2 separate regions of the Homo sapiens genome follow, and region 2 is linked to region 1. Evidence: fine-mapped expression QTL. Tissue or cell type: whole blood. Region 1 holds a variant in brackets; the other region holds the start of a gene. All regions are shown on one strand. Distances are from middle to middle.

What was found. PIP is the estimated chance that this variant, and not a neighbour inherited with it, causes the effect.
Region 2: DPEP2 starts here. The variant in region 1 is fine-mapped to the expression of DPEP2 in whole blood (INTERVAL, PIP 0.97).

The regions. Positions count from the first base shown.
Region 1 is chr16:67,640,680-67,643,434 of GRCh38, reverse strand. No RefSeq gene overlaps it. Among named protein-coding and RNA genes, the nearest start is that of CARMIL2, 3.1 kb to the left of the region's middle. The variant T/C (reference allele first, on the strand shown) is at 1,369.
Region 2 is chr16:67,998,003-68,000,613 of GRCh38, reverse strand. It overlaps DPEP2 (dipeptidase 2), which reads left to right and starts at 1,130. Exons shown (of 11, transcript NM_022355.4): 1 at 1,130-1,239. RefSeq lists an enhancer at 2,191-2,611.

The sequences.
Region 1 (2,755 bases):
ATCATTATTATTATTATTATTTTAGACAGAGCTTCGCTCTTGTTGCCCAGGCTGGAGTGCAGTAGGGCGATCTTGGTTCACTGCAACCTCTGCCTCCTGGGTTCAAGCAATTCTTCTGCCTCAGCCTCCCAAGTAGCTGGGATTACAGGCATGTGCCACCACACCCAGGGAATTTTTATGTTTTTAGTAGAGACGGGGTTTCACCATGTTTGTCAGGCTGGTCTCCAACTCCTGACCTCAGGTGATCTGCCCACCTCGGCCTCCCAAAGTGCTGGGATTACAGGCGTGAGACACCATGCCTGGCCACGAAGAGACATAATTTGGATTAAGATCTAAGGCTCTAAGACCACACAGAACCCTCAAACTGCTTGTAGGGTGACAATTCAGTAGGTCTCACACAGTACTGCCAAGGAACCAAGAATGCAGGTTCTGGCCAGGTGTAGTGGCTCATGCCTATAATCCCAGCATTTTGGGAGGCCGAGGTGGATCGCCTGAGCTCAGGAGTTCGAGACCAACCTGGCCAACATGGTGAAACCTTGTCTCTACTAAAATACAAAAAGTTAGCCAAGCGTGGTGGTGGGCACCTGTAGTCCCAGCTACTGGGGAGGCTGAGGCATGAGCATTGCTTGAGCCCAGGAGGCAGAGGTTGCAGTGAACCAAGATCTCACCACTGTACTCCAGCCTGGGCGACAGAGCAAGACTCCGTCTCAAAAAAAAAAAAAAGCAGGTTCTGCAGGCACACTGCCTAGATTTTGACACTGAACACATTGCTTAGCCTTTCTGGTCTTCCAGTTTTGTTTGTAAGCCGGAGCTATTAACTAACCTCAAGCCTTGCTCAAAGGATTCAATGTTTATTAAGGGAAGTGCCCGCAACAGTGCCTGGCACTCAGATAACACTCACATTTGCCAAGTCTACCATGACAACCCAGGGATTCCAAAACAGAATGGCAGAAAATCCACCTCACTGGGATTTTTCTGTTTAGAATGACAAGGAGGAGAGAGAAATGAGAGTGACTGCCAAAAGGGCTGGAGCCATGCCCAGGTGGAGGGCCTCTGGAGGCTGCAGCGATGCCAGTGGGGCCAGTCCCTGTGTGTGTGAGCACATGGGGGCAGGCAGGGACAACTAAGAGATCTGGACAGGCTTGCAGGGCTAGCCACGTGGCTGATGGTGGTCAGGGAGGTAGTAACACAGCAAACCTGATCTCAGAGACCAAGTGAACACATGGGACTCGGTTCTTACAAGTGACAGTGACTCAGTGAGAAGCTGTCAGCTTGTTCAAGCCCGTCTGTGTTCTGGATGGCATGCCACTCCATGGGCATTCAGGAAATGTCAAAGCTCCCGAGAGCATCAGCCTCGCCTGCTCTGGG[T/C]AGCACAGGCTGAGGGCGAGACTTGCCTCCCAGGTGGGCCGGGCTATGCCCCCTTGGTGCTGCCATAAGGCTCACCACAGATGATTTTCAAAGACCAGGTCCTGACAAGTCAGAGAAGGGTTCAGGTACTTGCTGAGCTGGGCAGCAATAGGGTGATGCCAGCCTAGGGGTGAAAGGGGCAAAGGTTCTTTACTTCTGTGGCTTAACACTGAGGGAGCTGCATGCAGGTTCAGGAACTTCCCTGTCAACAGAAGCAGTAACACAACTGGCTTCTGCTGCTGAATGTTTTATAATTAAGGGACAGACAGGATGCATCCTGGGCTATGCAGCAGGAGGATCCCTTTTCAGCCTTAACTCCATCAGGATGTCAATTCTCTTGCCCCCTCTCCAGCTAAAACAAATCCACTTTTAAACTTTTTTTTTTTGAGACGGAGTCTCGCTGTCACCCAGGCTGGAGTGCAGTGGCGCAATCTTGGCTCACTGCAACCTCCGCCTCCCGGGTTCAAGCAATTCTCCTGCCTCAGCCTCCCAAGTAGCTGGGAGGCTACTTTTAAACTTTTAAACTTTCTAACAGAGGGCCGGGCATGGTGGTGCACGCCTGTAATCCCAGCACTTTGGGTGGCCGAGGCGGGCGGATCATGAGGTCAGGAGATTGAGACCATCCTGGCCAACATGGTGAAACTCCGTCTCTATTAAAATACAATTAGCCAGGTGTGGTGGTGCGTGCCTGTATTCCCAGCTACTGGGGAGGCTGAGGCAGGAGAATTGCTTGAAACTGGGAGGCAGAGGTTGCAGTGAGCCGAGATCACGCCACTGCACTCCAGCCTGGCAACAGACCGAGACTCCATCTCAAAACAAACAAACAAGCAAACAAACAAACAAAAACCTTTCAAACAGAATGTATACAATCAGGAATGACAGGCTGTGTTGAATGAAGATACAGAAAAACTGAGCCTCATTGTTCTGCAAAGAGGTTATATATGCTTAGGTGGCTGGGAATGGTGGTTCATGCCTATAATCCAGCACTTTTGGAGGCTGAGGCAGGAAGATCACTTCAGTCCAGGAGTTTGAGACTAGCCTGGGCAACATAGCAAGATCCTATCTCTAAAAAAAAAAAAAAAAAAAAAAACCCTAAAAAAACAAAAAAAACAAAAATGAGCCAGGTGTGATGGCATGGCCCATAGTCCCAGCTATCCAGGAGGCTGAGGTAGGAGGATTGCTTGAGCCTAGTTCAAGGTCACAGTGAGCTGATTGTGCCACCACATCCCAGCCTAGGTGACAGAGTGAGACCCTGTCTCAAAAAAAACTTGGAATTAAAAAAAAGTTGGGGCCGGGTGTGGTGGCTCATGCCTGTAATCCTAGAACTTTGGGAGGCCGAGGCGGGCAG
Region 2 (2,611 bases), 360 kb before region 1:
AGTGGCCAGGCTGCTTTCTGGCTTGGAAGACTATTGTTTCTTGGGAATTGTCTGTATCAGACATCATGGGAGCAGATCCAGGGCGACATCAAAGGGAAGCATGAGTCTCCAGGACCAGAGGGGCTTGGATGCAGATGATCATCATCTGGGCACTGCTGGATACTGAGTAAGCCCCAGCTGCACCCCACCTCTGCGCTCTGAGCATGGGAGGCAGCCTGTGCAGCTATAACTCAGCCTGACTTTTTCCTTCCCTGCATACTCTTGAAATACACTGGAGATGAGTAGGGGCGAGTGAGCTGCACACCAGAATAAGTTTGGTCCTTGGAGCAAACTGTTTCTACTGCTGCCTCCTCTGCAGGTCTTGATTTATGCAAACACTGCATAGAAGAGGAAGTAGAGGGAAAAGCTGTTCACCCACCTACTCCTTCCTGGTAGCAAGATTTCCTATCCTGGCCTTGCCTCAACAGCCCTACCAATTGGAGGCTGAGGTTGTGCCAAGGCTCTATGGGGGGACGTAGCATCACTGAGGTGGCCAGATTTTGGAGGACAGGAAAGTTTGTGCTATTTGCTGAGACTGGAGAGGCTGGTGAGAGCAGACTCTCCATGAGTTGAAAGCCAAAGAAAGAAATTCGGTAGATTTCTGCAATGAGAAGCCACGGAAGAACTTCAGGCAGGAGGATGCATTGGATCTTGTTTTCGTTTTGTTAGAGATGGGGTCTCACTCTGTCGCCCAGGCTAGGGAGCAGTGGTGCCATCGTCTCTCACTGCAACCTTAAACTCCTGGGCTCAGGCGAACCTCCCACCTCAGCCTCGTAAGTACCTGGAACCACAGGCATGCACCACTTTTTTTTTTCCTTTTTCTTAGAGTTCTCATTATGTTGCCTAGACTGGTCTCAAACCTCCGGCTTCAAGAGATCCTCTCACCTCGACCTTCAAATTACTGGGATTACAGGCATGAGCCACCATGTCCTACCAGACTTTGTTAAAAGAGGAACAGGCCAGGCATCGTGGGCTCACATGAACACTCATGCCCCAGAAGTAAACAAGTGTTAGCCAACCAGGAGGCCTATCCTCCCCCTAACCTCACCCAAAGCCATCTCTGTGCCCTCCCCCTTGCAGGGGAAACAGCACACACTAGTGAAATCTTGTCTTAGTGTGTCCGGAATTGGTGGGTTCTTGGTCTCACTGAGTTCTAGAATGAAGCTGCAGACCCTCGCAGTGAGTGTTACAGCTCTTAAGGTAGCGCGTCTGGAGTTTGTTTCTTTTGATGTTTGGATGTTTGGAGTTTCTTCCTTCTGGTGGGTTTGTGGTCTTGTTGGCTCAGGAGTGAAGCTGCAGACCTTCGTGGTGAGTGTTACAGCTTTTAAGGCAGTGCGTCTGGAGTCGTTTGTTCCTCCCAGTGGGCTTGTGGTCTCGCTGGCTTCAGGAGTGAAGCTGCAGACCTTCGCGGTGAGTGTTAAAGCTCATAAAAGCAGCATGGACCCAAAGAGTGAACAGTAGCAAGATTTACTGCAAAGAGCAAAAGAACAAAGCTTCCACAGTGTGGAAGGGGACCAGAACAGGTAGCCACTGCGGGCTCAGGCAGCCTGCTTTTATTCTCTTATCTGGCCCCACCCACATCCTGCTGATTGGTAGAGCCGAGTGGTCTGTTTTGACAGGGTGCTGATTGGTGCGTTTACAATCCCTGAGCTAGACACAAAGGTTCTCCACGTCGCCACCAGATTAGCTAAATACAGAGTGTCGACACAAAGGTTCTCCAAGGCCCCACCAGAGCAGCTAGATACAGAGTGTCAGTTGGTGCATTCACAAACTCTGAGCTAGACACAGGGTGCTGATTGGTGTGTTTACAAACCTTGAGCTAGATACTGAGTGCCGACTGGTGTATTTACAATCCTGAGCTAGACGTAAAGATTGTCCACGTCCCCACCAGACTCAGGAGCACAACTGGCTTCACCCAGTGGATCCCGCACCAGGGATGCAGGTGGAGCTGCCTGCCAGTCCTGCGCCATGCGCCCGCACTCCTCAGCCCTGTGGTGGTCGATGGGACTGGGCGCTGTGGAGCAGGGGGCGGCGCTCACCGGGGAGGCTCCGGCCGCACAGGAGCCCATGGAGGGGGTGGGAGGCTCAGGCATGGAGGGCTGCAGGTCCCGAGCCCTGCCCCCCCGGGAAGGCAGCTAAGGCCCGGTGAGAAGTCGAGCGCAGCGCCTGTGAGCTGGCACTGCTGGGGGACCCAGTACATCCTCCGCAGCCACTGGCCCGGGTGCCAAGCCCCTCATTGCCCGGGGCCAGCAGGGCCCGCGGGCCGCTCCGAGTGCGGGCCCGCCAAGCCCACGCCCACCCGAAACTCCAGCTGGCCCGCAAGCGCCGCTCGCAGCCCCGGTTCCCACTCGCGCCTCTCCCTCCACACCTCCCTGCAAGCTGAGGGAGCTGGCTCTGGCCTTGGCCAGCCCAGAAAGGGGCTCCTACAGTGCAGCGGTGGGCTGAAGAGCTCTTCAAGTGCCGCCAAAGTGGGAGCCCAGGCAGAGGAGGCCCCGAGAGCGAGCGAGGGCTGTGAGGACTGGCAGCACGCTGTCACCTCTCATTAGGAGCTGCCAATATCAGTGGCACAGAC